Homo sapiens: one gene and its partners. The protein of the gene in region 2 interacts with the protein of the main gene of each other region in a biochemical or structural test. Each region holds a gene or a part of one and is shown on either strand. Other genes may lie near its edges.

Evidence for each region.
Region 1: the proteins of DRD2 (region 2) and TRPC1 form a complex in vitro, tested with the Homo sapiens proteins (one study listed by BioGRID).
Region 3: the proteins of DRD2 (region 2) and EPB41L1 form a complex in vitro, tested with the Homo sapiens proteins (one study listed by BioGRID).
Region 4: the proteins of DRD2 (region 2) and TRPC4 form a complex in vitro, tested with the Homo sapiens proteins (one study listed by BioGRID).

What each region holds. Positions count from the first base shown.
Region 1 is NC_000003.12:142,719,395-142,727,797, reverse strand, and holds the start of TRPC1 (short transient receptor potential channel 1), read right to left. Parts: upstream 3,765-8,403; 5' UTR 3,239-3,764; coding exon 3,067-3,238; intron 1-3,066. UniProt on the Homo sapiens protein: Forms a receptor-activated non-selective calcium permeant cation channel. Forms a heteromeric ion channel with TRPC4 or TRPC5 that has reduced calcium permeability compared to the homomeric TRPC4 or TRPC5 channel.
Region 2 is NC_000011.10:113,422,845-113,431,203, forward strand, and holds part of DRD2 (D(2) dopamine receptor), read right to left. Parts: intron 1,839-8,359; 5' UTR 1,808-1,838; coding exon 1,523-1,807; coding exon of another isoform or gene 1,519-1,522; intron 1-1,518. UniProt on the Homo sapiens protein: Dopamine receptor whose activity is mediated by G proteins which inhibit adenylyl cyclase. Positively regulates postnatal regression of retinal hyaloid vessels via suppression of VEGFR2/KDR activity, downstream of OPN5.
Region 3 is NC_000020.11:36,156,741-36,165,099, forward strand, and holds part of EPB41L1 (band 4.1-like protein 1), read left to right. Parts: intron 1-8,359. UniProt on the Homo sapiens protein: May function to confer stability and plasticity to neuronal membrane via multiple interactions, including the spectrin-actin-based cytoskeleton, integral membrane channels and membrane-associated guanylate kinases.
Region 4 is NC_000013.11:37,630,933-37,636,501, reverse strand, and holds the end of TRPC4 (short transient receptor potential channel 4), read left to right. Parts: 3' UTR 1-4,439; downstream 4,440-5,569. UniProt on the Homo sapiens protein: Forms a receptor-activated non-selective calcium permeant cation channel. Acts as a cell-cell contact-dependent endothelial calcium entry channel.

The DNA of each region.
Region 1 (8,403 bases), on a different chromosome or scaffold from region 2:
ATAAAACAACATATTTATAGTCAGCTCTTGTTTCAATTAAGTTTTACCTCTGAATTTATATAGCTTTCTATCTCTAGAAAGAACATGAGTATACTTTCTGAGAATTTTATCTGGGGGTCCTAGACTTCACTTTATATATTGCTGGCACAGTAACTTTCAATTAAGGTTTTCCTTTACAAAGAAAGGATTCAATGTTACCTCTGAGATGATCCTCACCCACTATGAAGATCACTAACAGCCATTACTAAGTGGCCACTACCTAGATCAGCAGTTGCCTAAATCTACCGAACTTACTTACATAAAAGCCAGCTATCACAAACTATAAATCTTTTTCTTTTCTCTTTCCTACATTTATTGTACTCTTTAATCTGTACACATCTTTCAAAGGGCCACCCATCCACTAACATACACATATCCATCTCATCTCCACAATTTTTGCTTTAGGAATTCCTCAATTTTTCCTAAGAAGAATATGTTATGAACATTTTGCATATGTACAACAAGAATGCTACATGAAAAGAATGAGACACTCTAGAACACCATAGATACTCTAGAGTTGATTTACTCTGGTGCTACTGAAGTACCATGCTTGCTTTTTACCCTTCATTGAACAAATGTAATACACAGAAATCAAGGTTTATAAAGCATCCATACAAAGAAAATGTAATTTCAACTAGTAAGTCCAAATATGGATGTGTCTTTTCTGACACAAATGATGTTCACTCATTCACCTACAACCAGATCTATATAACGTAGTGGTTAGGAGTGCAGGCTCAAGATAAATGCCAGTTCTACTATTATCTAACCAATGTAACCTTGGGCAAAGTAATTTTAAAATTTTGCTAAGCCTCATTTTCCTCATCTACAAATTGAGGACAACAACAGATCTGGCTCATGGGGTTGTGGGGTTTAAATGAAATCCTCTATGAAAAGCATGAACACTCGACCCCAATAGCTGCTTTAGTGAATGTTTAACATTTGGTCTGAGGAAGGCTCCAGTGTAATGGTGGAAGTCATAGCTACTTCAGGAAATTGTTCACTTTTAGACTGGTTTAGGTAACATTTTAAAAAGTCTAACAATATTAGCGAATACAAACACGTAATCAAAAGAATATTCCTATAACTCAAAGTTACTTTTTAAATGTAAATGTACCCCATAAGTATGCGTAAGAATTATGCTATTTTTCCAAATCTAACTCAAGAAGTTGTTTAGACATACCTGAAACAGAAAATTCCCATTTTAGCTCACTTGTTTTAAAAATTTCTAATTTATATATGGGGAAAATATGCATATTTAATTTCCACCCTACCCCCCCAAAGCCAAGTCTCTCATCTCAATTATGTTATAAAATAAAAAACTGACAAAGAATATCAAGGTATTTCACCTGGTACTACTAAATAGGCTATACAACTATCATAAATTAAAACTCTCTTTTGTTTGAGATATGTCATGCAATAATCCTAAATATACACAATGCACAAATACTTGCTCAACCATATTCCACTGATATTTTTCTGTCCTCAGTTTGACAGGAATATCAAATTTCCTTTCTTGACATACTTTCTGTTTGCTTTAAAATAACCATTGCACAGTGAGCTGGAATACATGGAGCCAGCACTTACTCATTTTAGTACAACACAATCTTCTCCCCTTCCTCTCTCAGAACTTTTGAGGGAAGAGAACTCAGGCAACCCACTCCAGCAATACTAAATAATTTTACATAATCCACAGACCCTATTTTTGTGACGTTGTAGATGTATATTCTGTTTCTTTACATCTCAAAGACTGCTCAAAGTTGTGTCCATGGTGTACTTTAACAATATTATTAATATTGCTTTCATAATATTATTTAATACTATTACATAAGAACATAAAAATGGCTCAACCACAGACATAGGTGGACTTTGTTTATATGTCAATTGTTTTCAAAAAATCATGTAAATAAAATCCTATTTCAAAAGCAGGAGGAGAGGTTAGGAAGGCTGTCATTTATTAATTACACATTCACACATACAAACAAACAAACAAAAATCCTGTGTAGTTAGTCTTTTCATAGTGTAAACTGCCCTTTGGGTTTGTTCCAGAAGTTTGCATGTTTCTAACAGAGTTTTCCTAAGTGTACAGCCATATAAATTTGGAAAAAGAAAAATTTTAGTGTTTCCATGTAGGAAACAAAAGCAGTCTTAGGGCAATCAATTTCCTATCCCTTTTGTTATATACATCACTACAAAGGATGATTGCGTGACATGGCCTTAATATGGCCATAAAAATGATTAACTTCTAGACTAAAAAAAGGATAACGCGCTAAATATATTCCACATATTTTTGCCTTGTAATTCCTGTAATTATTTTTCACTATCTTTATCTCCCAAAGAAAGATCTGGGAGCAATAAATCTTTCTCTCCAATAAAAAGCACTAACAATCAAAGGCGTTCCGTAAATCCAGAGAAAGTTTTGGCAACTAAGGCAGAATTTCTTCCGTCCCGTCCTTACTTCATGTATCTCCACCTAGGATATTCCGTTATTAATGCCAGTCAACAGTCACTGGCTAAAGCACTGGTCAGGTGAAGCTAAATAATAGAGGGTCTGGTTTTGTTTTTAAGAAAAACAAAAACCAGGTGATGAGAACCCTCCATACGAGGCATCCTAAGGTAAGGTGACGGAATTTTCCGACTGGAGTGTCGGAAACTAGCCTCTCGACTCCCGGAAGGAATGAACTGCGAGCCAGAGAGAAGACCAGGTCATTCATGCGGTCAGTAGCAAGGGCGGCGCTAAAACGCTGGGGTCGGGGCTCCCAAGGCGCTACCTAAACCCCGGACCCCAAGGCCAGAGCCACCCCCGACGGTGCAGCGCTCCGAGGGCGCAGCCCCAGCTCCACTCTCCCGCCAGCTCCACACTCACAGGGCAGAGGCGGTGAGGAGAAGACCGCCTGAGGCAGCAGGCGAGGCGGGAAGACACTCGGCGCCTGAGACAGAGGGAATGCCCCGATATAAGTTGAGGCGGGGGAGAGGACTAAAGGTCTGGAGGACAGGGGCGTCCAGAGGAGAAAGGGGCCTAACTCTCACCCTTGTCGCACGCCAGCAAGAAAAGCTTCTCATTCAGCGTATTCTCCTCCTTCACCTCCCGCACATCCTTCAGCGCCATCACCTCGTTCGGCGAGGAAGAGGATGGAGAGGAAGGCAGGGAGGAGGAGGAGGCGCCCGAGAGGTCCGTGCTCGGGTACAGGGCCGCCATCATCGCGGCCCATGAAGGGGGCAGGCCAGGAGACGGGGGCGGGGCCCCCACCGGCCCCGACCCCGACCCCGACCCCAGCCACGCCCCAGGGCTGGAAAAAGGATGAGTCGTTCCCACTGCTGCCTCGGCTCGAGGCCCGTTGGCCCCGAAGGGCGTCGCCTCCCCTGAGAACCAGCACTCGCCCTCCACTGACAGCCCCAAGTTGGTGGCGGCGCATGCGCGGCCCCGGGGCCAGCGACCCCTCCCCAGCCGCCGGCGCCCCGGCCGAGCCGGTCCGCGCCCGTCCGGGGACGACAGTGTGGCGCGCGCCAGGGCGGCAGCCGAGCACGGGGCCGTGCCAGGAGTCGCAGGGGCCGCGCCTGGGGCGGCCTAGCCCAGGAAGAGGACGAGAGATCTGTGGGAGAGGAGCTCCAAGAGGCGCTTCTGCGCACGTTGGGCTCCAGGGCTGTGGGAACCGCTGGCCCAGCTGCGCTCCGAGGAGATGTTCGCGACTCTGTCCTCACGTCATCCTCTGCTCCTCTGTAGCGACGACACTAGGGAGGAGCCTGCGGCAAGGGCGGGCTTGGGTGGGCGGGGCCTGCGGCAAGCGGGGCGTGGGTGGGTGGGGCCTGCGGTGGGGACGCACTGGGCTCCTGGAGCCCGCTGCAGCTTCCTTCGCTCTGGTGAGGTGAACCGCAGTCTGAGGAAGACTTCGCTCAATCGTCCCTTTCCACACCCAGGGTACTGGTTTAAGGTAATTAAGCAAATATGGAGCAGTATGTTAATTGAGTCTCTGACGACTTAATGTTTAGTCGAAATCCTTTGTGGAATTGTCCAGCTATTTCATATTCTGGTGCACTATGCTTTAAAGCACAATGGAGAGCCAGACTCGTGGGTTTGTATGTTGTACTCATTTTAGGCTGGAAATGAACTCTCATTTATAAAGGATATATAGATATATAATTATATTATGTTTAAATAATTTATACAAATATATAAATTTTTATTTCCATATTATTTCCATAGGTTTTTGAGGAACAGGTGGTGTTTGGTTACATGAGTAAGTTCTTTAGTGATGATTTGTGAGATTTTGATGTACCCATCATCGAGCAGTATACACTGAACCTAATTTTGTAGTCTTTTATCCCTCTCCCCCTTCCCAACCTTTCCCCGAGTCCCGAAAGTCCATTGTGTCATTCCTATGCCTTTGCATCCTCAAAGCTTAGCTCTCACTTGTGAGTGAGAACATACGATGTTTGGTTTTCCATTCCTGAGTTACTTCATTTAGAATAAGAATAATAGTCTCCAGTCCCATCCAGGTTTCTGCGAATGCCATTTATTCATTCCTTTTTATGGCTGAGTAGTATTCCATCATTATATATATATCACATATATATATACCACATATATATATATATATATATATATCACAGTTTCTTTATCCACTCATTGATTCATGGGCATTTGGGTTGGCTCCACATTTTTGCAATTGCGAATTGTGCTGCTATAAATATGCATGGGCAAGTATCTTTTTCGTGTAATGACTTCTTTTCCTCTGGGTAGATACCCAGTAGTGGGATTACTGGATCAAATGGTAGTTCTACTTTTAGTTCTCTAAGGAATCTCCACACTGTTTTCCATAGTGGTGTACTAGTTTACAGTCCCACCAGTAATGTAGAAGTGTTCCCTTTTCACCGCATCCACACCAACAGCTATTATTTTTTGATTTTTTTGATTATGGCCATTCTTGCGGAAGTAGGGTGGTACATACGGCATAGCAGTTTTGACTTGGAATTCCCTGATCATTAGTGATCTTGAGCATTTTTTCATATGTTTGTTGGCCATTTGTGTATCTTCTTTTGAGAATTGTCTATTCATGTTTTTTTGTTTTTTCTTGAGACAGAGTTTTGCTCTTGTTGCCCAGGCTGGAGTGCAATGGCGTGATCTTGGCTCACCGCAACTTCCGCCTCCCAGGTTCAAGTGATTCTCCTGCCTCAGCCTTCCGACCAGCTGGTATTACCGGCATGTGCCACCACACCCGGCTAATTTTGTATTTTTAGTAGAGACAGTGTTTCTCCCTGTTGGTCAGGCTGGTCTCGAACTCCAGACCTCAGGTGATCTGCCTGCCTCAGCCTCCCAAAGTGCTGGGATTACAAGCATGAGCCACTGCCCCCAGCCCTTTTCATGTTTTTAGCCCAGTTTTTGTTAGGATTTTTTTTTTCTTGATTATTTGTTTGAATTCATTGTAGATTCTGGATAGTAGTCCTTTGTCAGATGCATAGATTATGAAGATTTTCTCCCACTCTGTGGGTTGTCTGTTTACTCTGCTAACTCTTCCCTTTGCCATGCAAAAGCTCTTTCATTTAATCAAGTCCCAGCTATTTATCTTTCTTTTCATTGCATTTGCTTTTGGGTTCTTGGTCATGAAATCCTTGCCTAAGCCAATGTCTACAAGGGGTTTTCCGATGTTATCTTCTAGAATTTTTATAGTTTCAGGTCTTAGATTTAAGTTCTTGATCCATCTTGAGTTTATTTTTGTATAAGGTGAGAGATGCAGATCCAGTTTTATTCTCCTACGTGTGGCTTGCCAATTATCCCAGCACCATTTGTTGAATAGGGTGTCTTTTCCCCCACTTTATGTTTTTGTTTGCTTTGTTGAAAATCAGTCGGCTGTAAGTATTTGGGTTTATTTCTGGGTTCTCTATTCTGTTCCATTGGTCTATATGCCTATTTTTATGCCAGTACCATGCTGTTTTGGTGACAGTAGCCTTATAGTATAGTTTGAAATCAGGTAATGTGATGTCTCCAGATTTGTTCTTTTCGCTTCATCTTGCATTGGCTATGCAGGCTCTTTTTTGGTTCCATATGGATTTTAGGATTATTTTTTCTAGTTCTGTGAAGAATGATGGTGGTATTTTGATGGGAATTGCATTGAATTTGTAGATTGCTTTTGGCAGTATGGTCATTTTCACAATGTTGATTCTACCCATCCATGAGCATGGGATGTGTTTCCATTTGTTTGCCTCGTCTGTGATTTCTTTCAGCAGTGTTTTGTAGTTTTCCTTGTAGAGTTCTTTCTCCTTCTTTGTTAGGTATGTTCCTAAGTATTTTATTTTTCTAATAAAACAAAATACTTTTGCCGCTATTGTCAAAGGAATTGAGTTCTTTGTTTGATTCTCAGCTTGGTTGCTGTTGGTGTATAGGAGGGCTACTGATGTGTGTACATTAGTTTTGTATCCTGAAACTTTGCTGACTTCTTTTATCAGTTCTAGGAGCATTTTGGAGAAGTCTTTAGGGTTTTCTAGATATACAATCATATCATCAGCAAACAGCAACAGTTTGACTGCCTCTTTACTGACTTGGATGCCCTTTCTTTCTTTCTCTTCTCTGATTGCTCTGGATGGGACTTCCAGTACTATGTTGAAGAGGAGTGGTGAGAGTGGGCATCCTTGTCTTATTCCAGTTGTCAGAGGGAATGCTTTCAACTTTTCCCCATTCAGTATTGTGTTGGCTGTGGGTTTGTCATAGATGGCTTTTATTACATTGTGGTATGTCCCTTGTATGCCAGTTTTGCTGAGGGTTTTAATCATAAAGGGATGCTGGATTTTGTCAAGTGCTTTTTCTGCGTCTGTTAAGATGATCATGTGATTTGTTTTTAATTCTGTTTATGTGATGTATCACATTTATTGACTTGCATATGTTAAACCATCCCTGCATCCCTGGTATGAAACCCACTTGATCATGGTGGATTATCTTTTTGATATGTTGTTGGATTCAATTAGCTAGTATTTTGTTAAGGATTTTTACATCTATGTTCATCTGGAATATTGGTCTGTAGTTTGGTTTTTTTTTTTTTTTTTTTTTTGGGTTATGTTCTTTCCTGGTTTTGGTATTAGGGTGATACTGGCTTCATAGAATGCTTTAGGGAGGATTTCCTCTTTCTGTGTCTTGTGGAATAGTGACATTCTTCTTTAAATGTCTTTAAATGTCACAGGATCAGCTGTGAATCTGATCCTGGACTTTTTTTGTTGGTGATTTTTTTTATTACCGTTTCAATCTTGCTGCTTGTTATTGGTCTGTTCAGAGTATCTAATTCTTCCTGATTCAAGCTAGGTGGGTTGTATCTTTCCAGGAATTTATCCATCTCCTCTAGGTTTTCTAGTTTATGTGTGTAAAGGTGTTCATAGTAGCCTTGAATGATCTTTTGTATTTCTGTGGTGTCAATTGTAGTATCTCCCATTTCATTTCTAATTGAGCTTATTTGGATTTTCTCTCTTCTTTTCTTGATTAATCTTTTTAATGGTCTATCAATTTTATTTATCTTTTCAGAGAACCAGCTTTTTGTTTCTTTTTTTTTTTTTTTGTGATGGAGTCTTGCTCTGTCACCCAGGATAGAGTGCAGTGGCGCAATCTCAGCTCACTGCAAGCTCTGCCTCCCGGGTTCATGCCATTCTCCTGCCTCAGCCTCCTGAGTAGCTGGGACTACAGGTGCCCACCACCACGCCGGGCTAATTTTTTGTATTTTTTTAGTAGAGACGGGGTTTCACTGTGTTAGCCAGGATGGTCTCGATCTCCTGACCTTGTGATCTGCCCGCCTCGGCCTCCCAAAGTGCTGGGATTACAGGCGTGAGCCACTGCGCCCGGCCTATTTCATTTGTCTTTTGTATTTTTTTTTTTCCATTTCAATTCCATTTAGCTCTGCTCCGATCTTATTTCCTTTCTTCTGCTGGGTTTGGGTTTGGTTTGTTCTTGTTTCTCTAGTTTCTTGAGGTATGACCTTAGATTGTCTATTTGTGCTCTTTCAGACTTTTTGATGTAGGCATTTAGGGCTATGAGCTTTCCTCTTAGCACCACCTTTGCTGTATCCCAGAGGTTTTGATAAGTCATGTCACTATTGTTGTTCAGCTTGAAAAATTTTTAAATTTCCATCTTGATTTCATTTTTGACCCAGTTGTCATTCAGGAGCAGGTTATTTAATTTCCATGTATTTGCATAGTTTTGAAGGTTCCTTTTGGAGTTGATTTTCAGTTTTATTCCACTGTGGTCTGAGAGAGTGCTTGATATAATTTTAATTTTCTTAAATTTATTGAGATTTGTTTTGTGGCCTATCATATGATCTATCTTGGAGAAAGTTCCACGTGCTGATGAATAGAATGTATATTCTGCAGTTGTTTGGTAGAATGTTACGT
Region 2 (8,359 bases):
TCTCCCCTGTTTAAACCTACAAAGCTTTCTCATTTTCTTTCAACAACCCCTTCCCTCTCAGGCAGGGATGGCCTCAGAGGCACTGGTCAATTCCTCTCCTGCTCAGGGAAGGAAGGTAACGGTTCAGTGGGCAGAGCACCGGCACTTTCCTAAATGCCTGATCCCATGCCTTCCCATGCACCTAGACTCCCAGATTGCTTGAGTCCTGGACATGCCATCCTAGAAAGCTGGGCAGAGAAAGGGGCAGGATCCAGCTTGTGCCCACCGATGATCCCTAAATGCTCCCACATCTGCTCGCTGGCTCTGAAGGTGTCTTCCTGGAGAATAATATCTGCTTTGGGATTTCTCCATCAGCATTTCTCCCTGTGACCTGGGTGAAGAAAGGCAACTTCTCCAAAGCTTCTATTTCCTATTTTGTTTTTGTTTTAATTTAATTTTATTTTTTTTTTGAGACAGAGTCTTGCTCTGTCGCCCAGGCTGGAGTGCAATGGTATGATCTCAGCTCACTGCAACCTCTGCCTCCCAGATTCAAGCAATTCTCCTGCCTCAGCCTCCCAAGTATCTGGGATTACAGGCATATGCCACCACACCTGGCTAATTGTTGCATTTTTAGTAGAGATGGGGTTTCACCATGTTGGCCAGGCTGGTCTTGAACTCCTGGCCTCGTGATCTGCCTGCCTCGGCCTCCCAAAGTGCTAGGATTACAGGCGTGAGCCACCGTGCTCGGCCTGTTTCCTATTTTGTAAAGTGAGAAGAGTAGCATGGACTCCCAGGGTTACCAAGAGTATTCACTGGGTCTGTGTCAGCAATGCACCAGGCACAGTGTCTAGACTGTGCTGCCTACTCCCCATTTTGAGGTGCAGAGCTGGGCCAAGAAATGAGTGACTACACAATTCTTCCTAACAAAAGGGCTACAGCACAGTCCATGGCAGCCTCTACCTGCAGGTCCTGGACAGGGCCCCAGGATAAGCTGTGGGAAGGAGAGGGGATATGGGGAGCATAAAGCAGCAGACCCATTTCTGAAGTGGGGAGATGGGAGTGAAGGTTTCAGGGGCCTGGGAGCATAAACATGCCCCTCCTTGGGGATCCTTGCCGGTTACTCCTATTTCCAATATGACCTAAGGAACTAACTCTGAGGCCAGAATTCCAGCTTGGACTTGCCAGCCGTGTGATGCTGCAGCAGTTACTTAACATCTCTGACCACCTGGTTTATCAACTGCAAAATGGTGGCAATAATGCCAGCCTCTAAGCTGCTGTGAGGGTTATATAGGAAAATGCTATATTTAAAGTCCCTACGTGAGGCCCAGCACTTAGTAAGCACTTTACAAATGGTAGTTGGGATTATTAAGGAAACAATCTACCCATTTCGTAAGGAGAAAAAGTAAGCCCAGAGTGAAGGAAAAACCACCTGGGGAAGCACCAGGAAACTCATTGGTAAAAGCCAGTGGGGAGCTAGAGTCCCCAGTGTCCAGTGCAGGGCCCTGCTGGAGAAAGTGCTGGAGCAAGCAGGGGGCCCACCTACCTCCAGGTAGACAACCCAGGGCATGACCAGTGTGGCGACGAGGAGGTCGGCCACTGCGAGGCTGACGATCAGGTAGTTGGTGGTGGTCTGCAGCGCCTTCTCGCGGGACACAGCCATGCACACCAGCACGTTGCCGAAGACGATGACAGCGATGAGCAGGGTGAGCAGTGTGGCATAGTAGTTGTAGTGGGGTCTGTCCGCCTTCCCGTCTGACCCGTTGAAGGGCCGGCTCCAGTTCTGCCTCTCCAGATCATCATCATACCAGGACAGATTCAGTGGATCCATCAGGGCGGTGGAGCCACTGGGTGGCCAGGCTCTGGCCAGGAAAAATGGACACAAGGTGTCAGTGAGAGGGCCTCTTGCAGAGGTCTCCAGGAAGAAGACCAACTCCTGGCATTTAATAATGAGAATTTTCCAACTCGGGATTTTAAGGTTTACGGCTAAGAATTTTCTAAAAATGTTGGGCCTTCTGCCACTCTTTTGCTAGCAAGTTTTTACAGCTGGTAGGACAAATGAGCAAACACAATTTTTTAAAAATGCATAATAAGATGAGCTTGAACAGAGCTGATCCATCATTTATTTATTCATTCAACAAACACTTCTTAAGCACGACCCATGCACCACACACTTCAGTTAACCAGGCTTGCTACCTTCTAGTCATCGAAACAGAAATGGGTATTCATTCATTCTTGATTCTATAAATATTTATTAAGCATTGTTCTATATAGTTCTAGAAATATAGGCAGGAACAAAATATACATGGTTCTGTAGCTCACATTCTAGGAGAAACAACAGCCAATTAATCAAGCAATTACATCTAAGGGTGATAGGGAGTAGGAAATGGAACAGGGAGAGAGATACATAACCTAGTTCAGGTATTCAGGGAAGGCTTTCTAGAGGAAGTGATGTTCAACAGACAAACAACTGAAGGATGTGTAGGAATTAGCCAGGTAAAGAACTAGGAGTCAGCAGAAGGTCTAGACATTGGAAGCAGTATATGCAAAGCACAGAGGTAGAGAGGTAGACAGCAGGTGGAGGGCCTCAAAGAGATTCTGGATAGCTGATGCAGAGGGACCTGGCAAGGGTTGAGTCTGGGGAGGTTGCAATAGGCAAGATCATAGAGGGCCTTAAAAGTCATGCTAGGAGTTTATACATGATCCTAAGGGCAGCAGGAACCACATGATCAGATTCGCCTTTCGAATAGGTGATTCTGACAGCACTGTGGAGAACGGAGAGGAGGGGCCCAGAGTGGAAGCGGGACACCAACTGGGAGGCTGTAGCAGGAATCCAGGTAAGAGATGATGAGGTTTGGCAGGATGCAGGGAGTGAAAGCCCTGCAGAATGGGCATCTCATCCCACAGAAGGGAAAGACTTCCTGAAGTGGGTATCATCTGGGATGAAGTAGAAGGAGGACTTAGCCTGCTAAATGAGAGGGGTGGGGGGATGTTCCAGACAGACAATATGACATGGTATCAAATCATCAAACAGCAAACAATTCTGTTTGGCCAAAAATGTAGGGTATGGCAGTAACGTTGAGGATAATTAAACTGCAGGGACATTTACAGGCCAGATTGTGTCTTGTCAGCTGGAGAGTCCCTGAGAGGTTGGGCCCAGAGACATGACCCTATTGGACTGGTGTTCTAGAAAGTGTATGGTGTAGAAGAGAGCTCAGAGGAGAGTGATGTTTTGGCTGTAATTTAGGTTAGAAATTGTGGTCATCTGAACGAAGATAGTGGAAACGAGGATGGAGAGACCTGTTCAGAATTAGGAGCTAAACTGCAAGTCAATTTCATGGTCCTTGGTCCTTGGATAGGTGTGGGGCAAAAGTGGGTATGGGACAAGCAGGGAGATAAGGAGTTGAGGGTAATGCTAGGATTTCTGCGTGGGGCTCTGGGAGGCTGGTGTCGCATATTCACAGAGAAAAGGGACCAGAGGGGCTCAGGAGCAGACTTGGGAGGCATCAGGAGTTGATGAACTTGACAGCCGGAGTTTTGGTTGTGACTGAAGCATAATGCATGGATAATATAGTTGGCTTTTCAGCTAACAAAAGTCTTCCTCTTTTACAGAATAGAATTAAACTTATCAGCATTCCAAGGTGTTTCATACAAAGCACATGACTTCCAGGTACTTTGCTACTGCAAATTGAAAACCACCAATTGATGCCATTTGGGATGAATGTGGTGCCATGTCCAATCAATGAACAGGGCACACCTCCAGCAATGGGTCAGAGAGGATGGTGGAAGAGGGTCTGCCCAATCTCCACACTCTCATCCCTGTCTGACACACCCACTCTTCCAGCTTTAGTAGAAGAATATGGATCATGTCCTACCAACCACCATCACTCTGGAGCCTCGGGGAAAAGCAAAGTGCCTAATTCCATGTGGGGTGACATGGAATGCCACCACGCAGCAAATCTTCCTGTTCTAAGGTAATGAAGCATATGTCATATTGATGCTGTATTCTGCAAAACCAACTGAGCCCTCTTCCCATTTGGAGCCCACAGCGGGAGGCCTGCATGTATGTATTGATCAGGTGCCTGGGGCTGCTTCTGACATTCATTTACTCAATCGGCATTTATTGAACCTGCTGGGCATAAAGCACTGTGCAAAGCAGTGTCAGGGGCCTGAGGCGTGTGAGGCACACTTACTGCCCCCATCCTGACCATCGCTCTCTTCTTCTCCCCCCACTCCCTGCTGCTGATGATAGCATCATATACTTGTAAAGGGTTTGATAGTTTGCTAAGTTTTTTGGATATACTGTCTCATTTATCCTCAAAACAACCCTCGGAGGCTTTTAATTATTATCCCTGTCTATGGCCATACTACCTGGAACATGCTTGATCTTGTCTAATTATTATCCCTACTTTAATAAGAAAGGGATTTGGAAAACTCTTCTGTTCACTTCCCTTCCCTCTGCTTTTCCAGTCCCTATGCATCCTTCAAAGTGAGTCTTGCCTAGAATCCTCCTGTCTTAGAATCCACCCATATCCTCCTGCCTGAGCCATCACCCACCCTCCTCAGGGTCCTGCAGCACTGAAACACACCCCAGTGCTGCAGGAGACACCTGTTTAGGAGTCTCTTTTTTTCACTGGGGTGTAGACATCACAAGAGTTACAACATGTCTTGCTCATTCCTCCTCTTGTTCTTGGAATGAACAAATAAAAACCATACTATCTTGTTCTTTCCCAACTCTTGACTCTGGTTTGTGGGCAGTACGTATTCAACAGATGTTTGCTGAACTGAATCAAAGGCTCTGTTAGTGCAACTGGGAAGAAAACCCCTTCCCACTTGAAAGGCACCTGCTAACATAGGCTACCAGATTAACAAGTGATGAAAAAGTAAGGCACCCCAAGGGTGCCATAGGTGCTGCATGTTGGGTCCTGTTACAGTCTGCACTATGCTCTTCCCCCAACCCACAAAATGTATATGTTGAAGTCCTAACCCCCAGTACCTCAGAATGTGACTGTATTAGGATACAGGGCCTTTAAAGAGTTGATTATGTTAAAATGAGACGCTTAGGGTGGGCCCTAACCCAATCTGACTGGAGTCCTTATAAGAGGAGCTTTGGACATAAAAAGAGACATCAGGGATGCGCGCACAGAGGAGAGACCAAGTGGGAATGCAGCAAGAAGGCGGCCATCTGCTAGCCATGGAGAGAGGCCTTAAGCAAAATCAGCCCTGTTGACACCTTGATCTGGGACGTCCCAGCCTCCAGAACTATGAGGAAACAGATTTCTGTTGTTCAATCCACCCAATCTGTGGAATTTTGTCATAGCAGCCAGAGCAGACTAATACAGGTCCCTAGAAGTAGACTCTGAAGAGGAAATCAGCCTGCAGGAAATGTACAGGGGAATGCTCTCAGGATCAAGATGTGCAAAGAAGTGAGGAAGCAGGACAGGCCAGAGGGAGAAGTCACAAGAAAGGCATCAGGTGACCCCACAGGGCACCCTGCCAGTTGCCTAAATGAGGGCAACAGGGTAGGGCCTTTAATCCCCTCTCATAGATGTCACAGCTTCTGGCTGTCCCAGGGAAAGCAGCGAGGCCTTGAAAGAGGCATCTCTCCTCAGCAGTGGGCAATTGCCAAAAACTGTCAGTTGCCAACACTCCCAGTAGATGGGGATGAGGGCTGTGGTCCTGCAGGGGGATCTGGGTGGCACTCCACCGTGTCCACTACAGTTGATGTTCAGGAGCATATGCACATGTGTGTGGCTGGGGCGTTTGTGGAGAACTTCCTGGAGGAGGGAGGATGTAAACTGGGATTTAATTTTTTTTTAATAGAGACAGAATCCCACTTTGCCACCCAGGCTGGAGTGCAGTGGCACAATCATAGCTCACTGCAGCCTCAACTCCTGGCCTCAAGTGATCCTACCACCTCAGCCTCCTGAGTAGCTGGAAATACAGGCATGTGCCACCATGCCTGGCTAATTTTTAAAAATGTTTTGTAGAGATGGGGGTCTCACTATGTTGCCCAGGCTGGTCTCACACTCCTGGCCTCAAGAGATACTCCTGCCTTGGCCTCCCAAAGTGCTGGGATTACAGGCACTAGTCTAGGATTTAAAATTATGAGTACAATGTAGATGGCAAATGTGAGCACTGCAGGTCAGGTGGGGTTGAGGGTGAGCATTCATTCTCTGGAGTGCTGGTTACTTCTGCAGGGTAAGGGAGAGTCCCTGTACCCAAGTTCTGAGAAAGGCCTCACACATTTGATTTTCTAATCTATTATTTATTATTGGTTGTTCTCGTTGCTTTTTGTTGCTAATACAAACGTAGTATATTTACACCATAGGAAAAAAAAGGGAAAACATGGCAAATGCCTAAATACCTGTAACCCCTATAAGTACCTTGGTACAGGGCTATCTTTTTGTCTGTTTGCTTGTTTGGGGGTTTTTTTGTTATTGAGATGGAGTCTTGCTCTGTCACCCGGGCTGGAGTGCAGTGGGGCTATCTCGGCTCACTGCAAGCTCCGCCTCCTGGATTCACGCCATTCTCCTGCCTCAGCCTCCCGAGTAGCCAGGACTACAGGTGCCCGCCACCATGTCCAGCTAATTTTTTTGTATTTTTAGTAGAGACGGGGTTTCACCGTGTTAGTCAGGATGGTCTCGATCTCCTGACCTCATTATCTGCCTGCCTCGGCCTCCCAGAGTGCTGGGATTACAGGCGTGAGCCACCGCACCCGGCCAGTACAGGGCTATCTTTTAACACCTGGTGTCAGTCCTGGTTTCTATCGTGTCTTCAGCACCTTATCTACTTGGGGCTTTCACCTCTCACAAGCAGGGGCAGCCTAGCTGGCTCTCACCATGTAAACATCAAGCTGAGCAGGAATTCAGACATCAGCAAATCCACTGCCACAGAGAAGGTACTCTAGCCTGAGAGGTGCTAGTATAACATTCGAGTTGAGGACTAAAAAACCTGGGTTCAAGTCCCAACTCTACCATTTACTAACTTTGGGGCCTCAGCCAGATTATTTGGCTTTCCTGAGCCCAGTTTTCCCATACACAAAATAGAGATAACAACAATTGTGAGTATTAAGTAAGATGACTCATGGCCATGTGCCAGGCACAGGTAAGCCCTTGAGAATGTCAACTTTAAAAATCAAACCAAGCAAAAGAATGAAATGAAACAAGCAATCAGACCACAAGCCAACGGCTCAGCAAGATGAAGTGACTGTTGCTGTTCAAATGCAGCTCACTAGGGTCTGAGGTCCTCCTGGGCCCACTGCCTCCTATGGCCCATCCTGAAAAATAGGTGGCTAGATGAAGGGAGATGGATTTCAAGATGCAGCCACCAACTCCTTGGGAGGAAGTAAAGGAAGGAAAAGACAAAGCCTGTCCCTGGGCCCTGGCTGTAGGACAAACTCAAGTGACCCTTGAGATGAGGTAGCAGCTGGCCTGGAAGATACAGCTCTCCCAGCCCAGCTGCTATAGCCGATGACTGTCATACTAATCACCACATTTCATAGACTCTAAGACAAAATCGAATGAAGATGCACCACTATTTTATATATCACTAGGAAAGAAAAAAATGCCATCCAACCCCAGTAGAGCTCCAAGATGTCATCCATTGTAAAATGCATTCTGATTTCAGAGACATTAAAATGGTGGGGGCAGGGGGAAGTGCATTGTAGAGTGGATAGCAATACAGGGCCTTCCCAGCATTTCTAAGCTGGTATTTTCTCAAGGGGCCTGAGAAAACCTGCTGGTCCCCAGGCTTCCCTGCTGCAGCTCCAGCCCATCCCTCCCTTTTGTCCTTCTGTCTCCGGGCTGCACAGATTGTTGGGCTCCAAGGGGCATCCCAAAAGAATACACAAGTGAGTAGCTTCTCCATCCTGGCTGGAGCTTGTGTTCATGGTAGCGGAGTGAGGAAAGGTTCTCAGTGCTGCTCCAGTTACGCTGGGCTGGTTCTGGCTCCAAAGAAGCCTGGTGAGTTCTTTGTCCACTCTGGAGCTTGTTGAGGGAAAATGCAAAGCCACATAACACATGGCACCTTGTATTTGCCATGATGGTCCCAATTTCTTGTTCTTTTTTTAAAATGGAGATTGGCTAAATATATAACCCAAGGTGCATTATTCTTACATGAGAAATTTTTTTGAGACAAATAAAGTGGCACAGTATATTTAAAAATCTATTGTTATCAAAACAAGCATTTTGATTTTTGATTGTGAAAATATGATCAACTTGCTCACCACCCTCCAAATGTCATCTCCATCTTTCTCCCAGGTGGCCCCTGGGCATGCATAAAAGCTTACAAAACTCCAAATCACAATCCCCAGTCAACAAGAACTTAGTGAGCACCAAATACATGCATGGACACTGTTATTTTCCAGCTGTTACAGGTTGAG
Region 3 (8,359 bases), on a different chromosome or scaffold from region 2:
CGTGGGTGGTCCTGGACCCTCTTGGAAGTGCATAGAGCTGAGAGGATGCCAGGTGCCCAGGGATGTTCTGGCCTGAGCCTCCAGGGGGCAACAGAGAGTTTTCTGACTTCAGGCTGTGGTGGGAGGTGCTTGTTAGCACCTGCCGGGACTTCCCTAAGAGCCCCTTTCTGGGCTTCTCTGTCCCATTTGTTAAAAGGGGACACAGGCGTGCGCCATTGCGCACGCCTGTAATCCCAGCACTTTGGGAGGACGAGGCGGGCAGATCACAAGTTCAAGAGATGAAGACCATCCTGGCCAACATGGTGAAACCCCGTCTCTACTAAAAATACAAAAATTAGCTGGGCGTGGTAGTGCACGCCTATAGCCCCAGCAACTCGGGAGGCTGAGGCAGGAGAATCGCCTGACCCCAGGAGGCAGAGGTTGCAGTGAGCCGACATCGTGCCACTGCACTCCAGCCTGGAGACAGAGCGAGACTCCCTCTCAAAGAAAAAAAAAGGGCGGGGAGGATGATCATCTCTGCCTGGAGATAAATACCAATGATTACACAATCAAAGTGATAGTATTTATTGAAACTTACTGTATGCCATGTACTGCAAGAAGTGCTTTGAGTCATTTCACAGTAACCCTGTCAGATAGATGTGATTAATTATCCACTTTTTACAGAGGAGAAACTGAGGCTCAGAGAGGTTATGTCACTGGACTAAAGTTACGCAGCTGGAAAGTGCGAGGCGGTCTGAGTCCAGAGCCCTTCTTTCTACCATGACATTTACTGGGGGCAATATCTGGAAGTACCAGGTTGGTGTCCAGTGGAGCCAGGCAATTCATTGGTAGGCCAGGGCCAGTCCAGGTGGAGAGGTGTGTGAGGGGTGTGTGTGTGTGTGCCTGGTGAGGCAAGGGTGGCTTTGTGGACTGAATATTACTATAGTGCTGAGGGGTAGGGGTAGATAAGTACTGACTAGGAGCTCTCAGAGAAGGATTAGCCTTGGCCTTCTCCTTCCTGGCCAGGGTCCCCCAGAAGTGGGGAAACACCAGACTCCCTGCTCCCATTGGCTTTTAGGGAAGATGGGCTGGCTCTGGACACATCCCGAGGCCACAGTGGGGACTGGGCTAAGGAGGCCCTGTGGGCAGGGAGCTGAGCCTTGGTGGATGGGTGGGGGTGGAGCAGGCTGGCACTGCTTCCTTTGTGGGCTAGAGGCTTGTGGATCAGAATAGTAACAGCTAACATTTATTGAGCATTTATTATGTGCCAGGCCCAGTTTTAAGGGCTTCCATGTACAACTCATACGTTCTTCACAAAGCCCTGTGAGGTGTAGATGAGGTATAGGAGTTATTCTTCCCGTTTTACAGATTGATGGAGCTGTGGCTTAGATAGTTGTTCAAGGTCAAATAGCTAGGCTGTGGGGGAGTCAGGATTCAAACCTAGGCAGTGTGGGTCAGAGCCATGTTCCTGAAGGCCATGCCAGGCAGCCTGTAGTTTCTCAGAGGCCATACTCTGTTTTGTTCAAGTTGAAATAGTCACTCAGTCAGATGCATCCCTCTCCTCAAAGGCCTCCCAGTCTAGCTGGGAGAGATGCAGACATGACACACTAAAAGTAAAGAGTGTGCTATTGCATAGGCTCAGCATGGATTCCTATTTTGGTGCTCAGGGAAGGCTTCAAGAAGACGGGGACCTTTGAGCTGGGCACTGAAGGCCAAGTCGGATTTCGATGGTTGAAGGGGGAAGGGCACCCACTTCCCCAGGTCAGAGGGGAAGGAAATAGGAATGCCTCTGAAGAAGAGTGGGCGGTCTGATGTGCGTGGAACAGATAGTGTGTGTGGCGGAGTGTGAGCTGGGAGGTGACTCAGAAAGTCACCTAGTGTTTGGGTTTTTGATGGAGCTCTGGAATCCACCAGACGTAGGCTATAGTCACAGCAATGCATTGTATTAGCCACGTGGCCTTGGGCACATCACTCAGCTGGCCCAAACCTCAGTTTCCTCATTCGTAAAATGCAGATAAACATGCCTGTCTCACAGGGACCATGTTGTGGTTGTTATATAAAGCACCTAGTGTAATGCTAACACATTGCAGGAACTCAGTAAACATTACTTCTCTCCCGCTTCTGTCTCTCTTAAATGTCAGGCCAAGGTGTTTCGACTTGACGTGAGCCGGGATGCTCTAGGAATCTTTGCAGGATTTTAGTCTGCTGAGGAGCATGACAGAACTGTGTTTTGGGAAGGTCCTTTTGGCAACCGTATGATCCACAGGAGAGGGTGGACGTGATCTTACAGGAGAAACCTTAACTGTGGGGACTTGGAGGGCTGGGGAGGGATCAAGATTGGCACTCATTAAGGTGTCCCTCTGGTAGTGGGTGGTTCGCCAGGTTGGAGAAGGAGGAGCTTGGAGTGGGTAAGGCCACAGGGTCAGGAATTCTGTTTCAGGCCTGGTGAGTTTGAGAAGGGCTGGTCTCCCTTTAGTCATCTGGAAGATTGGGTAGCATCTTTTTTGCACATCTGGCCTGTTTTTCCTTTGAATTATTTCTTTTGAATAAATCCCCATCAGAGCTTCCTCTATAATAGCAGTAAATTGGGACTAAGTGTCCAACAATAGGAAGATGATTGGGAAAGCTTTGGAACATCCACTGGATAAAATAATACGCAGTGGTGAACACCCACAGAAAAACTGCTTGCAGTGGATGGAGCTGTGCAATTGCAAAGCTCTTTTGCATCCTTGATTCATTTTGTGCTTATGACTGCTCTGCGACAGAGGTGGGGCCGGGGCTAGATCCTTTCTGTGTTTGAAGAGAATGACGCTAGACTCCAGTCTCCTTGAAGGCAGAGTTGAGTTCACATTTTATTCATTGTTTCGTCGCAGCATGTTGCTCAGTGGTTTGCAAATACTTGTCCGATGAAAGAATGAGTGAACTAATCAAGAGGGGAAGTGACTTGATCAAGGTCACTCAAGTTGTAAGACATAGTGCCTGCCATATTCTTGCTATTCCCTACTTGCCACATTCTTCTCACTAACCACTCACTATCTTCGAGGGGAATAGGACAGAGAGGTTCCCAGTGAGGACCTGGCACTTGCATAGAACAGGGTTTAAGTCTTCTTTCTGTTTTTACTAGCTGTGAGGCAATTGGCAAGTTAATTAATCTTTCAAAGCCCCAGTTTGCCCAGCTGTAATGTGGATAGTCCAAGTACCTGGTTTTAGGGTTGTCATCAAGATTGAATAAGTTAAGGCATGTAAACATCTTGGCATGGTAACTAGTACATAGTGAAGTATCCATGAACATTAGTGGAGATGATGATGATGTCATGATGTGATGTCATTAATGGTCTGATACAATTAATGTTAAATGGGAAAGAAGACCCATAAGATTATCAGTATTCATATTACAATGGTATAAAATTAGGTATGAACATAGATACAGATTGGAAGAAAACAGGTAGAAAATGGAGTTCCAGCAAGCATATGGGAAGTGAATAAAACAGAAAAACAAATATTTCTTTACTGTTATATTTACTTTTCTTTAGTTTTAATTACAAAAAAAATTTGTGGAAAATCTAATAATTCAGAAGTGTAGGCCAGGCACGGTGGCTCATGCCTATAATCCCAGCACTCTGGGAGGCTGAGGCGGGTAGATCACCTGAGGTCAGGAGTTCAAGACCAGCCTGGCCAACATGGTGAAACCCCATTTCTACTAAAAATACAAAAAGTTAGCCGGGCATGGTGGCTGGCGCCTGTAATCCCAGCTACTCAGGAGGCTGAGGCAAGAGAATCTCTTGCACCCGGAAGGCAGAGGTTGTGGGGCAGTGAGCCGAGATTGCGCCATTGCACTCCAGCCTGGGTGACAGAGCGAGACTCCGTCACAAAAAAAAAAAAGAAAGAAAGAAAGAAAAAAAGTGTATTCTCCCCTTAGATCCCCAAACAAATCCTACTCTCCAGTCGTAGCTAATAACAGCATGTTGTGTATCCTTCCAGGATATTTTCTATACCAACATAAACATACAAACCAGAATGGGATCATACATTGCATTATTGTTTTACAACTTGCATTTTTCATGTAACTACACATTGACATCTTTTTATGTCAGTAGATATAAAATCTATCTCAAAAATTTTTGCAATAGGTATGTTATACTTTCATAATTAAATTTTTAATGGATAAACCCTACTAATTTGGCCAGCCCCCCTGTTGATTGACATTTGAAGTTGTTTCCAATTTTACGGTATTCTAAGTAACGCTAACTGAACTCTAACAGTATTTAGACAATTAGTGAAAATCAAGTGAGAGAAGGAGTCAGAAACCATGAGACCGTGAGAGTTGCCCTCAAAGGTCTGCTGCTTCTCCCTTCTCCTGTTCCCTCCTCTCCTCACTGGAGCCTGGGGGAACTGGTCTTGGAGGAGGCCATCTCTCTGTCACCCTCAAAAGGTGGTGATGTCCCAGGGAAAGACCCTTTCTTTCACCCACCCAGTATGGAGCTCTCCTAGGAAATTTTCAAATTCTCTTAGGATGCTCTAAGCTGCTGCTTGGGCTGTGCAGCTGCCCACACCCAGACTGTCCTTGGACAAGCTTTCTACCTTCTCTGTACCTCAGTTTGTCCATCTGTCTGGTGGTGATCAGAGCCATTGCTGCCACTGAGTGTCTTCTATATGTCAAATACTGTGCTAGAGCAAGCTTCATGTGCATTATCTGTTTTTCTATTTTTTCTTTTTATTTTATTCTTCTTATTTTTTTGTTTGTTTGTTTTTTGGGTTTTTTTGTTTTGTTTTTGAGATGGAGTCTTGCTGTGTTGCCCAGGCTGGAGTGCAGTGGCAGGATCTCAGCTCACTGCAACCTCCGCCTCCCCGGTTCAAGCAATTCTCCTGCCTTGGCCTCCCAAGTAGCTGGGATTACAGGCACGTGCCACCTGCCTGGCTAGTTCTTGTATTTTTAGTAGAGACAGGTTATCACTGTGTTGGCCAGGCTGGTCTCGAACTCCTGACCTCAGGTGATCTGCCTGCCTCAGCCTCCCAAAGTGCTGGGATTACAGGCCCAGTCGTTATTCTTGTTTTTTTAAAGACAGCCTGTCACTCTGTCACCCAGGCTGGAGTGCAGTGGCATAGTCACAGCTCACTGTGACCTCAAACTCCCAGGCTCTAGTGATCCTCCTGCCTCAGCCTCCTGAGTAGCTGGGACTACAGGTGCACCCCACCATGCCCGGCTAATTTGGGGGGGGCACAGGGTAAAGACAGTGTCTCGCTCTGTTGCCCAGACTGCTCTCAAACTCCTGGGCTCAAGCAATCCTCCCTCCTTGGCCTTCCAAAGTGCTGAGATTACAGGCGTGAGCCACCACACCCTGCCTATCTCATTTAATTCTCACTATACACCTTGGAGGTGCAGGGGATAGTCTTCTCAATAGAGGTTAAGTAACCTGCCCAAGGTCACCAAGCCTGTGGCATCAGGATTCCAGCTCTGGCTCATAAGCCCATGTCTGTAACTGCTGTTTCCTGCCCACTCTCAACAGTGGCTAATTGGTGAGGTCCAAGCAAAATGATTATAAAAAGATCCTTTAAGTTGTAAAGTGCCCTGCATGTGGGAGGGATTGATACTGCCGTTATTATTTCTACATCCAGAGCAACAGTAGCTTTGGTTATATGGCTTACAGCAAGTTGGAGGTCGTGGGATGTAGCAGCATTGAGTGGGGAGAGCACTGGACTGTGAGCCAGCAGACTTGAGTCCTAGTCCTGGCTCTCCTTGAAACTGACTAGCCATGTGGCCTTGGCCACTAAGCCGCCTGGGAAATAAGCTCACCTACTCCGTGTGGCCCTTGTGCAGCTCAAATAAGATAAAGCCCAAAAGACAGCCAGCATGTTGCCCAGCTCTCGGAGGATACCCTGCTAACGGGAGGTCTCTCTCTGCCTTCTGCATCGTCATCAGGATGGGCCAGGTGGGACGCATGTCTCCGTTTTAATGCTGTTACTCTGCAGTTCTGTGCTGTCACGTGGTCCCCAGCCCACCACTGCACATCAGCCTGAGGCTCCCTAGTGGCCCGTGAAGCTTTTGGGCAAGAAGCCAAGGCTGATGGGTGGTGGCCTTTTCACATTGTTTGGTCTAAAGTGGTGTCCGTGGGTACTGCAAACCTCTGACGAATTGCCGTCTCCCCACTGCCATGTACAAATCCAAGCACCAGACAGGATGACTGCAGACTCAGCTCCCTTTTTGATCCTTCTTGCCTGGCTGTGAAAGTGGCTTGAGGTCTCAGAGGCAGCTCTCTCAGCCTGTACCCTCCATCCTTTCATTCACGTCCATGTAGACATTATCACTCAGGGAAGTGAGTGTTCCATACTGGGGAAGTCCCCTTGGGAAGGAAGTCACATCATCTCCAGCAAGTGAGAGAAAGAATAAGCCCTAATAGGCACTCTTTCTGTTTTTTTTTTTTTTTCTTGTAATTCTTCTTTTTTCTTTTCTGACTCCGAAAGTAATACATGCTCATAGTAGAAAATTGAAAAATACGGAGAAAAAGGCCCCTATTTCCTTCTCCAAGGGAAGGCTATTGTTAACATTTTAGTCTTTGGACTTAATTGGAGAGTAATATTTCTGGAGCAAATATTTCTAATATTCTGGTATGTGTTTAGTGTTTTACAGGCATGATCTGATTCCATTTTCACAGTAAGCCTGTGAGGTATGTAAGTTTATCATCATGACTTTACAGATGAAGAAACTGAGGCACAAAGAGGTTAAGGGGCTTCCTGACGGTTCCCTTGCCTTCCTTGACTTCTTAGCTTATTCTGCCTCTTCTCAGGCTCCCCTTATCCTAAGTGAGCATCAGGTGGTGGATCAGTCAGATTCTGACAGGAAACAGAATTCCACTCAGATGCTTCACCTGAGGAGATGTTAATAAAGATGTGAGCAGGGTGAGGGGAACCCACATGGGATGGTGAGGCACCCACAAACTAACAGTGACAGAAGGCATTACTAGCTCTCGGCCTGAATGAGCAGGAGGGAGTGGTGTTACCTGAGTTCCGTGACTGGTAGAGGTGGGCAGGGAGCTGTCGCAGAGGGGCTCAGCCACCACCAGGACCACAGAGAGAGAAATTGGGGAAGATACACCCAGGATCTCTCTCCTTCCACCTTCTGAATTCCTGCCAGTGCCTTCTTCTTTATTATTTTTTTTTTAAGACAGAGTCTCTGTCGTCCAGGCTAGAGTGCAGTAGCATGATCTTGGCTCACTGCAACTTCCACCTCCCAGGTCTGCCTCAGCCTCCCTAGTAGCTGGGACTACAGGCGCCTGCCACCACACCCAGTTAATTTTTATATTTTTAGTAGAGACAGGGTTTCACCTTGTTGGCCAGGCTGGTCTCAAACTCCTGACCCCAAGTCATCCACCCACCTTGGCCTCCCAAAATGCTGGGATTGCAGGCGTGAGCCACTGTGCCCGGCCCCTGCCAGTGTCTTCTATTGGCCAAATGGAACCAGAAACCAGGAGGCAAGGGAGCTCAAGGGACAGTCCAATGGGCCAGCCTCCTGCTTCTTCAAGCAGGTCATGGATCTGGGGGTGCACATGGAGACTAACAACCCAAGCGACATGGTTGTAGGGAGATGGGAGAGACATGTCCTCTGACTTCCCAGAAAGAGTTGTCTTAGTAACTGACTATTAAAAACATCATTCAAAACAAGAGACTTTTTTTCTGCCTGGGAGTCTCTTGGTGTTTTGGTGTCTCCTCCCTCCCCTGCCCCCCATCTCCTCTCTCACCTGGTTCAGAATTTCCAAGAACACCTGGGCAACAGTCTTTGGTGTCATCGGTGTGCAGGGTTTAGAAGAGACAACCTTGCTTGCATGATACATGTGGCTGTGTGTGTTCTCATGTTGTTTCACTGCTGTGCCTATGCATACAAAGACATGCTTCTTGTGTACATGTCATAAGCATCTATAACATAGTCTCCTCTGTATCCAGCAGAATATTCACTTTTTATTTATTTATTTATCTAATTTTATTTTTTTGAGATGGAGTCTTGCTCTGTCTCCAGGCTGGAGTTCAGTGGCATGATCTCGGCTCATTTCAACCTCTGCTGCCGAGGTTCAAGCAATTCTCCTGTCTCAGGCTCCCGAGTAGCTGGGACTACAGGAGCCTGCCACCATGCCCGGCTAATTTTTGTATTTTTAGTAGAGATAGGGTTTCACGATATTGGTTAGGCTGGTCTCGAACTCCTGACCTCAGGTGATCCACCCGCCTCACCCTCCCAAAATGCTGGGATTACAGGTGTGAGCCACTGCGCCTGGCTATTTATTTATTTTTGAGACAGAATCTCGTTCTGTCACCCAGGCTGGAGTGCAGTGGTGCGATCTGAGCTCACTACAACCTCTGCCTCCCAGTTTCAAGCAATTCTTCTGCCTCA
Region 4 (5,569 bases), on a different chromosome or scaffold from region 2:
TTTAGGGTCTTTAGAGAGGGTTACTCACCAAGGACTTTTCACCTAGTCCTACAGTTTGGCTTTAAAACACAAATATTACCAAATTATTTCTTAACGACATGTAAATAATTATTGTACACAAAGCAAACAAGTCTTCTTCTCATGGAGTCATATCTAAACTCCCTCAAATTCAGAAAAACTTTGTAGTGTTTTAGGTTGTTCCAGGGTTTCCTTTCAGTAAGTAAAAGAAGTGTTTGTCTTAATACATTTTGATGACTGATGATTTTTAACGACATTTTGTCAGGAAAAAAACTCGCCCCTCCAGTTTTTTTAATTACCTATTTCAGATTCAACTGCTTATCAGTATAAATATGAGTCTTTATGAATAACTGAATTTCAAAAATATGGCAAGATTTCTGTTATAAAAAAATAATAAACCATAATATTGTAAGTATCTTAAACAAGCAAGATGATTACATACTAATAATATCCAAATGAAAATGAATTTATTCTAACAATCTAAATCTAAGTAAAGTTGAATTCCAGTATTTTCAATCAACGCAATATTGTAATCAATTCAAAAGAAGTACAAAAAAACTAGCAGTCTCCTCTTTTCACCAGTAATCTTTATATATTTCTTTAAAATTAAATCACTCAAAAATCATTATTAATTTTATCAGCAGATATAGATATATAGTTTTGCCTATAGGAAAAACATTCTTATTTCTTGTTTTTCTTTCTATTGTTTGCAAGGTAATTTAGCTTATAACAATTCACTGAACTATTACAAGGAAAGTGTTCGCAACTTACATAAAATTGATACTAGAAACTTAAAGCTTAAATTTTACATTGCTTGTGTCTATTTAAGCCACTACGGGAAGTTTCTTCACCACATAAAATTAGCATTTATTTCAAATCAATAGAAAAATGCTAAGTTCATTTTATTTCAAAAATTACTCTGCGAACCTCAGAAATTGCATGTGATTTATCATTGGCCCCAAACTGAATAATGTTATGGCACTCAGTTTCTCATTACCAAACATCAAAAATAAGGAATAACAGCAATAACAATGCCAGCCTCTGTTCTATTCCTATACACCTGTTAACATTTATGTACTGCTCTTTACAGCCCTCTGAAGTAGCTCCTGTTTTTATCCCCATTTCACATATGATGAAACTGAGACCAGCACTAACTGGCTAAGGTAATACAGCTCATGATGGAGCTGTGATGTGTCCATCAGAGCCATTCCCTTCACCACTGCATTGTAACTGCCTTTCAGAACATAAAAAGAGCAAGTTATAAAACATGCATATACAGGGGTTACAATTGCCACTTCTGAAGTCCTATACCTTGAGAGAGAATGAGTTTGGTATGCTTCATAAGAGTCCCTTCTTCTAAAGCAAGAGAAGTGTGCAAAATATAAAATGTGCTGTATTTGATTCTTTAGACTAAATTACATTAAAGTTAGTAGATTTTAAAAACATATTTATTATGTGATCTCAGAACTCAATTTGAAATACTAGATTTTAATTTTCAGAAAAGCCAGGAGCACTAAGCCCCTGTTCACTCCTAAACCTGGTTTTTGGGAATTTAGGAATGGGCCAGATAGATTTGGAGAAACACAAGCCTAAATGAATGCATTTACTGTTTCAAGAACACCTTTATCTCAAGTATATTAGGACTCAGAGCAAATCCTGGGGCTACTGAAATACTCATTTTTTTCTAAATCATACCTACAGTAGTAGAGAAATTGTAGGCCTATTGTTAATATTTGGGATATTTTCTATTAATTTCTTTTTGCCTCTCTTGTGCGTTGTTGTTTTATTTTGTTTTTTCCCAAAGTAAGGACACTATACATAACCATTTTACATACTTTACCAGAATTTAATTTCAAATTCTCTCTGTTCCGTCAAGCAACACCAATAACAGTACAAGCAACAAAACCTTTTTTCCCCCAGTAGCTTATTTATATCAGGGGTTAAGGTGCTGACATTTTATAGGGGGACATGATGGTAATAGAGGAATGTATTTGGAGCAAGTAAGACCCTCCTTTTCAGTGCCCTAGAAAGGATGATTCTAACAACCCCCAGATGTTGCTGACAGATGTGTTTATGAGTATGAACAAAGTGCTGGATATTATTAGTACCCGATGTTACTAATATCACTAGAATTGAATGCTATTCTAAATACGTAGTGACATTATGTAGCATTAATGAAGATGAGGAGTAGGGATAAAATAAGAAAAGTCAAACAACAGCAGGATAGCAAGCAAAGAAATACTGTTTCTTTGAGGTTTGTAAGTGCGTACTTCAGGGTGTTCGTTTCTATTCATATTTCTATCCACAGAAATTTCTAAATGCTACAGAGAACTTTGAAATTACCTTCATTTACATAAATAATGTTTCTCATTTTTCGTACTCTCTTAATCTTAAAAAATCTGTTTTTCTTAAATTTTGTGTCTGAGTTAGGTGAAGGAGTGTGTTGAAAATTCAGTTTAATAGACTAGCAGGTAAGTTTAAAACACTTTGTTTATCACAATTGTATTTTGGAAGTCCCATTTATAAGAAAGTATGCTATAAAGATGTACCTCATTATTCGTAATAAAGGTTTTCCTTAAAATTTCTGTGCAAATAAATCTATATTAACTTCAGTAAGGAAATTGGCTATATTTTTTAAAATGGGGTGAATTATTTTATAAAATCATGAGTAATTTTTCAAAGTGCTAAACATCCTCAAAATGTATCTGTTTCATGAATTGAATATTTGTATATCAAATTTTCTTAAATTAGTTACTCTATTTACTGGATGGCAATTAAACTAATGCAAAAACATACTCACTTTCTTGCCTTGACGTAGACAGCAACTTGAAATACTTTAGTGATGAAACAAATTGATGAAAAGTCAAGGATAGTAGACTCACCATGCTGTTCTCAAAGAAGCAAAGTCAATTTTCTAGCAAAGGTGGAGGAAACATAAGTAACAATAGCATAAGAATATATTCTTCTAACATTCAATAATCCTTAATAACTCTGGGATTTAGCTGAGTAAATGACTATCCAGTCTCACAGCTCTTTATTGAAGAGAGGCCACCAAGTTTTGAAATCTGTCCATTCTTAGTCCTCATGCATTGTATTTTTAGCTGTCTTCTATGGTGTATACAGCTGCCTTCCATGCTCAGTGTCCTTAAAACTCAACCTAGTAAGAACCATCCATTGTGGCCCTGTAAATATGCTTACAATATATTTTTCTTTCTCTGTATTATCTGAAATTCTGACTTAAAACTAACCATAGAATTTAGAAATTTAATATTACTGGCATTCCTCTTAACTTCAAAACCATTATTCTGATTTTACAATGTCTGAAAAGACATTTTATTTATACAGTGTTATCACATGCCTTTTTTAATTTGAATTTTAGAATCATGTTAAATAAGTTCACTGTAGATAACTGGGGAAAGTAAAGCCCAGGGAATTTATGGAAATTATCTAAATTTACCCATGTGTTTGGTGGTCAAGTTGGGGCTTAAACAAAAACCTCCTCATCTAGATATTTGGATGAGGCATCACATTATAAATGCCTTGACCACTGACTTTTTATTTGGGGAACATTTTGTCTTCTTTGCCCTTGTAGAAAATATAGTTGTCCAAACATTCAAGTTAAAATTCAGAATTAATACCATATTATCTTTTGTTTTTCTACAAAGTTGTGTTAAGAGAATTTTTAAAAAGCTGGTTTCTTACTGTTTTCAGAAAATACACTGTTCATTTTCACTGGAAGTGTAGATTTTATGATAACCTGTATGCATACTGGTAATAATAAAATGTATTAAATTATATCAAAGCTTCTCAACTGAAAAACATTAGAGATGGACAATGTACAGTTGAACTAAGATTGGGACAATGGGACCAAGCCTGGATACAGTCACACCGTTACTAGGCTGACAGTGAAGACGTCTCTGCAAGTCAAATTCACCAGTAGCAAAACCGTTAATTTCCTCTAGAGCTGCACTGTTCAGTAACGTAGCTCCTATACTCATACGGCTATTAATCACTTGTAAGTGTGACAAGTCTGAATTAAGATGTGCTGTAAGTGTGAAACACACACCAGATTTCTAGGACAGTATGAAAATAATGTAAACTAGCTCATAAATATTTTATGTTGGCTACATATTGAACTGATAGTATTTATGAAGTATTGATTTAAAATATACTAAGTAAATGAGTTTGATGTTTCTTTTTCCTTTTACAATGTGGCTACTAGAAAACTGAAAAATACGTATGTGGCTTGCATTTGTGCCTTGCAATACATTTCTATTGGACAGTGCTGCTCAGGAACATTTGTATTTGTTTCAGTCAGCTCATGTATCTCCATCATCTGAATTGCAAAGGTAGAAAATTCTATCTTTAATTACTCAAAAAAGTTTTGTGTAGCTCTATTAAAGTTTGCAGTCTCTCCTTGATTCCTAATCTCCTAATGGACTCACTGGTAATAATTTGCTGTTTTTCCCTGTTTTTCCTTTGCCTTTGCAAATGTATTAATATATAAATATACATGCAGCTATATAGGTTATGGTTTTGTTATCATTTTTATCAAGAATTTCATCACACTATACCTATAACTTAGCAAATGTTTTTATCTAACAGTGTATCACGGAAACCTTTTCTAAAATAATTAAATATAGTGGAGCCATTTGAATCTATTTAAATAAATTCCTTGACTAGTTATTTTACCTAGTGAAATATTATCGCATGCTATTTTTAAAACCATGATAGAAGAGCTACTTATTGGAGAAAACACAAGGTTTTGTTTGTTTCTTTGTTTGTCTTTTGAGACAGAGTCTCTCTCTGTTGCCCAGGCTGGAGTCTAGTGGCACAATCTCAGCTCACTGCAACCTCTGTCTCCTGGGTTCAAGCAATTCTCCTGCCTTAGCCTCCTGAGTAGCTGGGATTACAGGAGCTTGCCACACATCTGGCTAATTTTTGTATTTTTAGTAGAGAGGGGATTTCACCATGTTAGCCAGGCTGGTCTTGAACTCCTGACCTCGTGATCTGCCCGCCTCAGCCTCCCAAAGTGCTGGGATTACAGGTCTGAGCCACCGCACCCAGCCCACAAGGTTTTTAAGTGATGAGAAATGCCTGATAGACAACAAGGTGTGTCTGAAAGGCAAATAAGCTCATTTGTCTCTTTCGTTTACAATCTTGCAGGGCTGGGTTTCTGGTACCAGCATCGCTTCTCAGCTTCATTCTCTCACACACTATACTTCAGCCATTCTAAACTTCTTTCAGCTCCTTGCGAGTTAGTATTGTTCTTTTCTCTAACATTTGCAAACATTGTTTTTCCATGCTTGAGTAAGAATTGTACCAAAATTTTATTACTTTAAATAATTTTAATAAAGGATTTTAATTAATTCTAATCGACTTATTTTATGATTTCCTTTAGATCTAATCAAATTTTTTTACCAAATTTCTTTTTTTTTTTTTTTTTTTTTTTTTTTTAAGAAAACCTTTTCCTGAGGCTGCACATAAAGAGCCACGTTACCTCTCTGGAAACGAAGTGTGATCCACATTGACATGCTTTCAGGGCACCAAT